2 linked regions of the Homo sapiens genome follow. The protein of the gene in region 2 interacts with the protein of the main gene of each other region in a pairwise test. Each region holds a gene or a part of one and is shown on either strand. Other genes may lie near its edges. The genes, in order: SPACA9 and SEPHS1.

Region 1 (3,818 bases), on a different chromosome or scaffold from region 2:
GCCAGACACAGCGGCTCATGCCGGTAATCCCAGCACTTTGAGAGGCCGAGGTGAGTGGATCACCTGAGGCCAGGAGTGGAGACCAGCCTGGCCAACATGGTGAAACCCCATCTTTACTAAAAATCCCAAAATTAGCCAGTTGTGGTGGTACGCGCCTGTAGTCCCAGTGACTCGGGAGGCTGAGGCATGAGAATCACATGAACCCTGGAGGCAGAAGCTGCAGTGAGCCGAGATCGCACCACTGCACTCCAGCCTGGGTGACACAGCAAGACCCTGTCTCAAAAAAAAAAAAAAAAAAAAAAAGTTAAATGTACAGAAAAGGAGCACCCATATAACCCTCACCCAGATTCACCGACTTGTGACATTTAGCCAATTTAGCCATATTTGCCCACGCATGCAGCCCCTGAGCTATTGGAAAATAAACTTCCTCTTCTGTAAACCTGGACTTCGGGGGAAAAAAGAAAAGAAACTGCCTACATCCTTTTTAGTCCATCCTCCAGAAGCTTCAAAAGTCAACAAGTGTCCCTTCCCAGAATCTACATCCATGCATAAGGGAGTGGCCTTCTTGCCTTAGGTTCAGCCGAAGGCTCTTGGTAAACAGTGGCCTTGTGTTCTGAGTTGCCTCACCCCTCCCCTGCCCTCCCTGAACCAGAAGTGTCCAAAGGTTCCCTGCACACCGCCCCCCACCCCCGCAATGCTCTGTTGTAGTTACACCATGGGGCAGGTTCCTCCTCCTCGACCCCTACAGGTGCCTTTGTGGGTATGAGTGTGAAGAGCCTCTCCCCCTTACGAAGCTGCTTGTGCATGGCAGTCCTTGGGAAGGAACCACTTCAGATTGTTTGGGGAAACATCCCCTAGCAACAAAAAGACAAACGGTTACAGCAAGAAAACCCTGATTTAGATGTAGACCTTTGTGGGTGCTGGAGGAGGTGATACCTGCATCTGTCATCAGATTGTGGAGAGTAGAACCATCTGACTACGAAATGGGTCTGTTCATCTGGCCTGGACCACAGCCAATTCCTCCCTAGCTCGAGATCAGACCTCCGGCTCTGGCCCAACCTCAGATGCAGTCACTGGGTAACCCCATAAGCTCCACTTACTGGCCTGCCCCTCCTTCTCCACCTTGTGAACACAGTACGGCTGAAGCCCAAAGGATTCCAGTCCCTGCTGTTTCCCTCTCAGTATGGGTGGCCCACGCTGGAATTTCTCACAATGAACCCTCTAGAAGTGGGATGACAGGCACTGTGGCATTAAGTCAGGGGGCAGCCCCCTTTTGCTTTAGGCGGTGGTTGGTTCAGGTGGCAGGGGACAGGTGAGGGGTAGGGCACGGAGCCACTGAGCTGGGGACACCCAACTAAGCCACTGGTGCCCTGGGCGGGTTATTTCACCTCTGCAAACCTCCAGTGTTCATGTCATGGTACTGATCTGTAAAATGGGAATTTAAAAAGGTACCTGCTCAGTGTGTAGGGTTTAGATGAAGACAGGCGAGAGCAGGCCCGTAAAGCATTTTGCATGGTGCCTGGAACACTTGATTTTATATCCATCTATCTATCTACCCATCCATCCGTCCATTTAATTTAATTAATTTTTTGTTTTTGAGATGGCATCTTGCTCTGTTACCCAGGCTGGAGTGCAGTGGCATGATCTCGGCTCACTGCAGCCTCCTCCTCCCGGGTTCAAGTGGTTTTCCTGCCTCAGCCTCCCGAGTAGCTGGGATTACAGGCACGTGCCACCACGCCTGGCTAATTTTTTTTTTCCTAGTAGAGATGGGGTTTCACCATGTTGACCAGGCTGGTCTCGAACTCCTGACCTCAAGTGATCCCCGCCCACCTCAGCCTCCCAAAGTGCGGGGATTACACGTGTGAGCCACTGTGCCCAACCGATCCATTAATTTCATATCATATCTATCCATCCATCCATCCATCCATCCATCCATCCATCCATCCATCTATAGAGAGAGAGATACCACTATATAGAGTGGTCTGTACCTTAAAATGCTTAAGCGTTACTTGCGTCTCCCCCATGAGTCATGTAGGGTGGGAGGGAGTAGGGTGGGTGCTTCTGGACATTTGCACCATAAGCCAGCCAGGACCCGGGTTGGCATGTCCCCAGCTCATGTGGCGGCGGCCCTTGCAGGTGCAGAGCTACATGGAACACTACTGCAACAGCTCCACAGACCGGCGGGTTCTGCTCATGTTCCTGGACATCTGTTCAGAGCTGAATAAGCTCTGCCAGCACTTTGAGGCCGTGCACTCTGGCACCCCAGTCACCAACAACCTCCTGGAGAAATGCAAAACCCTCGTTAGCCAAAGCAACGACTTAAGCAGCCTCAGAGCAAAGTAAGTCCCTCTGATGCTGCTCTTGAGGCCCCGTGTGTGCCTGTGGGGAGGCCTCTGTCCTGCTTCTTTCCTGTTGCCTGGATCATGGTGCTCCTATTAGACCACCCCGGGCAGGAAATCCCAGTCTCCACTCATTTATTGGAATGACTCGGATTCAACAAAACCTTTTCTTTACAACCATCGTAGACATGGCAGGACACCAGGTGTCTCACGGGTGTTAGCACCAGGCAGGTGGAGAAGGGGGTGTAGAGCCCAGAGCAGTTGCCCCCAGAAGCCCACAGAGATCCTCACTGACATGCAAAGAAGTGGACACCAGAGCCGCCTCCCAGGGGCAGCAGCACTGGCACTGAGGGCTCCTCATCCTGACAGCCCGGGAGCCTGCAGCACAGTGGGCCAGAGCCTGGGGAAGCTCTGTAGATACCAGGGTGAGAAGAGCCAGAGGGATGAGCCAGCCAGTTCCTCACCCCTAACCCAGGTTTCTACGGACCATGGGGCAGTGGTTTGCATCTCCTGTCTTTCACACCAGAATTACCTGGGGCTTGTGGCACCCCAGGCCTGGTCTGCCAGAATCTCTGGGGACAGAGCGCCTCAGCGTGCTGTGTGTCCAGTTCTAAAGCCTCCCCAGGTGACTCTGCTGTGCCTGAGGTGTGGCAGCTGCTTGCCACGGCATGGCAAGTCCCGGGAGCATGGGTTCACCTGGCCCCCTGCCGTCCTGCAGATACCCTCATGATGTGGTGAACCACCTCAGCTGTGACGAGGCCCGGAACCACTACGGCGGCGTGGTCAGCCTCATCCCCCTCATCCTAGACTTAATGAAAGAATGGATCGCCCACTCCGAGAAGTTGCCGCGCAAGGTGCTGCAGCACGTGAGTGAGCCCCAGGCGCACCAGGAGAGCACCAGGGGAGCCGCTCGTCCTGCCCAGGCCATAGGGACCCAGCCCAGGGCCACTAAACACAAGTGTAGACAGCTCACAAAAGCCAGCCTCAAACCCAGGGGATGTTCAAAACCACCCTGGAGGCCTCCTGGTGGGAAATTGTAACTCAGAGCCAGGAGCTCCGTCGGCGGAGAGCTTTGCTGTTTAATTTGGATTTTACTGGTTGGTCCTTTTTTCACTGGTACCCATGGACCCTGCCACTTACTAACCCCAAGGGAATCAGCCAATATATTACTGAGACTTCCTCTCTCTCTTCTTGCTTTAACTTCTTTTTTTTTTGAGACGGAGTCTCGCTCTGTCGCCCAGGCTGGAGTGCGGTGGCGCAACCTCGGCTCACTGCAACCTCCGCCTCCCAGGTTCACGCCATTCTCCTGCCTCAGCCTCCCAAGTAGCTGGGACTACAGGCGCCCACCACCTCGCCTGGCTAATTTTTTGTATTTTTAGTAGAGACAGCGTTTCACCATGTTAGCCAGGATGGTCTCAATCTCCTGACCTCATGATCTACCCTCGTGATCGGCCTCCCAAAGTGCTGGGATTACAGGCG
Region 2 (3,818 bases):
TAGAAGTGCCCCCACTCCCACCCATCCCCTGCATTCCTGCTTAGGTGTAACCACTGAATTTTGTGTTTATTTTCTTGCATTTTAGAATATTTTTATTGCACAGCCCTTGTGTTCTTAAGCAGCAAATTAGTTTTGCATTTTTTTTACTTGTTTTGTTCACCATTGTTCCTGAGAGTCTCCTTGTTATATGTAGCTGTAGTAGATTCCTTTTGGCTGTGTTGATTTTTCCACTGGCTTCTCTGCTCTCCTGTTTCACACTGGGGCGACTGCTATGGACTTCCTTGGCCCAGCCCTCTGAGGCACGTGTAAGAGATCAGTACTGGCTCAGCTTTTATAGATAGTGCCAAACTGTCTTCCAAAGTGTTCACCACAGTTTACAATGGCACACTATGTTTAGAAAGCGTTTTTTAATATGTCTTCTCTTCCCATTTATTTTATACATTTTTTCTACTATAAAAGAATTACATGCTTATTATAGAAAAGTTTTTAGAAAATGGAAAATAGTACAGAAAAAAGTTGTCCATAGTCCCTCCACCCAAAACAGCTCCGGCTAGCATTTTTATGTATTCTTCCAGGACTTTTTTTCATGTTTGGCTGGTGATTTACTATTGTTGTTTTAAAGTAGTGGTTAGTATAAGTTTTCACTATGTAATGGTTAGTATATGTATTTGGAGTGCCTGCTTTTGTTGTTTTGACATGACTAATGTTTCCCATATTATGTATCCTAGTAAACTTTTTTTTTTTTTTTTTTTTTTTTTTTGAGACAGAATCTAACTCTGTCGCCCAGGCTGGAGTCCATTGGTGTGATCTCGGCTCACTGCAACCGCTACCTACCAGGTTCAAGCAGTTCTGTTGCCTCAGCCTTCCCAGTAGCTGGGACTACAGGCACGCATCATCACCATGCCCGGCGGATTTTTGTATTTTTGGTAGAGACAGGGTTTCACTATGTTGGCCAGGCTGGTCTCGAACTCCTGACCTCAGGTGATCTACCCTCCTTGGCCTCCCAAGGTGCTAGGATTATAGGCGTGAGCCATAGTACACATAATTTTTAATGACTAGATAATGTTCTACCAGAGAAATGTACCACAATTATCTTTTACCTATTGTTTTACAATTCATTTGGAAATAAAAATTTTCTGTAATTTGTTGTTACTTGTAAGAAAGTTATAGCCAGGCACAGTGGCTCACACCTATAATCCAGCACTTTGGGAGGTTGAGGCAGGAGGATCACTTGAGTCCAGCAGTTGGAGACCAGCCTAGGCAACATAGTGAGACCCCATCTCGTCTCTTTAGCTGCGCCTGGTGCATTCCTGTAGTCTAAGCTACTCGAGAGGCTGAGGTGGGAGGATTACTTGAGCCCAGGATGTTGAGACTGCAGTGAGTGGTGATCATACCCCTACGCTTCAGCCTGGGTGACAGGGTGAGATCATGTCTCAAAAAAAAAAAAAAAGTTATAGATCAGAGGAACAGAATAGAGAATCCAGAGGTAGGTCCATATTATAGTCAACTGATTTTTTTTTTTTTTTTGAGATGGAGTTTTGCTCTTTCGCCCAGGCTGAAGTGCAGTGGCAGGATCTTGGCTCACCGCAACCTCCGCCTTCCGACTTCAAGTGATTCTTCTGCCACAGCCTCCCAAGTAGCTGGGATTATAGGCGCCCGCCACCACGCCTGGCTAATTTTTGTATTTTTAGTAGAGATGGGTTTTCACCATGTTGGCCAGGCTAGTCTTGAACCCCTGACCTTGTGATCCGCCTGTCTCGGCCTCCCAAAGTACTGGGATTACAGGCGTGAGCCACTGCACCTGGCCTAGTCAACTGATTTTTGACAAAGGAGTAAAGGCAATTCATTGGAGAAAAGAGTCTTTTCACCAAATGGTGCTGGAACAAGTGGACATTCACATGAAGAAAATTATTCTGGATGCAGATCTTATACCTTTCGTGAAGATTAACTCAAAATGAATGTTTAGTGTGTTTTCACACTGCTATAAATAGCCAAGACTGGATAATTTATTTATTCATTTATTATTATTATTATTATTTTTTTTTTTTTTTTTTGAGACTGAGTCTCTTTTTTTTTTTTTTTTTTTTTTTTTTTTTTTTTTTTTTGAGACGGAGTCTCGCTGTCGCCCAGGCTGGAGTGCAGTGGGGTGATCTCGGCTCACTGCAACCTGTGCCTCTCAGGTTCAAGCGATTCTCCTGCCTCAGCCTCTGGAGTAGCTGGGATTACAGGGCGCACGCCACCACACCCCACTAATTTTGGTATTTTTAGTAGAGACGGGGTTTCACCATGTTGGTCAGGCTGGTCTTGAACTCCTGACCTTGGCCTCCCAAAGTGCTGGAATTGCAGGCGTGAGCCACCATGCCCAGCTGACTGGGTAATTTATAAAGGAAAGAGGTTTAATTTACTCACAGTTTCACATGGCTGGGGAGACCTCAGGAAACTTACAGTCGTGGCAGATGGTGAAGGGGAAACAGGCACCTAGGTTCTTCATGAGGCAGCAGGACAGAGAAGAGCAGGGGAAACTGCCACTTACAAAACCATCAGATCTCATGAGAATTCATTCACCCTGACGAGAACAGCACGAGGGAAACCGCCCTCATGATTCAGTCACCTCCCACCAGGTCCCTCTCTTGACATGTGGGGATTACAATTCGAGATGAGATTTAGGTGGGGACACAGAGCCAGACCATATTGATGATTCGTAGACCTAAATAAAACACAACAATATAAAACTGGAAGAAGGTAACATCAGAGAAAATTGAGGTGGCTTTGGGTTTGGTGATGACTTTATAACACCAAAAGCACTATCTATTAAAAAATTGCTAAGTTTGGCTTTATTAATATAAAAAACTTCTGCTCGGTGAAAAACACTGTTAAGGAAATGAAAAGACAAGCCACAGACTGGGAGAAAAATTTTGCCAAACACATACCTGTTCAAGGTCAGGTATCCAAAATATACAAAGGACTCTTAAAACTCAATAATAAAAAACAACTCAATTTAAACATGGCCCAAAGACCTTGACAGACACCATGAAAGAAGATAACGCAGATGGCAAATAAGCATAAAAGGAAACCTTCAGTGTGGTACGTCAATAGGGAACTGTAGATTAAAGCAGTGATTGAGATGCCACCACATACCTGTTAGAATGGCTAAAATCCAAAACACTGAGAATAGCCTGGGCAACATGGTGAAACCCCATCTCTACCAAAAAAATACAAAAAATTAGCTGGGCATGGTGGCTTGCGCCTTAGTCCCAGCTACTTGGGAAGCTGAGGTTGGGAGGATCCCTTGAGCCCAGGAGGTCGAGGCTGCAGTAAGCTGTGATCGCACCACCTCACTCCAGCCTGGGTGACAAAGCGAGACCCTGTCTCAAAAAAAACCCAAAAACACTGATAATACCAACTGCTGGCAAGGATGTAGAGAAACAGGAAGGAACTCTCATTTATTACTGGTAGGACTGAAAACTGGCACAGCCACTTTAAAAGTCAGTTTGGCAGTTTCTTATGAAACTAAATATGTTATTATATGATGCAGCGATTGTGCTCCTTGATATTCACTCAAAAAAGTTGAAAACTTACATTCACACAAAAGCCTGCAGACAAATGTTCATAGCAGCATTATTCATAATTGCCAGAACTTGGAAGCAGCCATTCATTTCTTCAGTAGGTGAGTGGATGAATGGATAAACAAAATGTAGTGTATCTGTATGATGGAATATAATTGAGCAGTAAAAAGAAATGAGCTATCAAGCCATGAAAAGATGTGGAGGAATCTTAAGTGCATATTACTAAGTGAAAGAAGCCAGTCTGAAAAAGCT

Evidence for each region.
Region 1: the proteins of SEPHS1 (region 2) and SPACA9 interact in a two-hybrid assay, tested with the Homo sapiens proteins (one large-scale study listed by BioGRID and IntAct).

What each region holds. Positions count from the first base shown.
Region 1 is NC_000009.12:132,885,233-132,889,050, forward strand, and holds part of SPACA9 (sperm acrosome-associated protein 9), read left to right. Parts: intron 1-2,136; coding exon 2,137-2,339; intron 2,340-3,057; coding exon 3,058-3,379; 3' UTR 3,380-3,818. UniProt on the Homo sapiens protein: Microtubule inner protein (MIP) part of the dynein-decorated doublet microtubules (DMTs) of multiciliated respiratory cells and the distal singlet microtubules of monoflagellated spermatozoa.
Region 2 is NC_000010.11:13,324,183-13,328,000, reverse strand, and holds part of SEPHS1 (selenide, water dikinase 1), read left to right. Parts: intron 1-3,818. UniProt on the Homo sapiens protein: Synthesizes selenophosphate from selenide and ATP.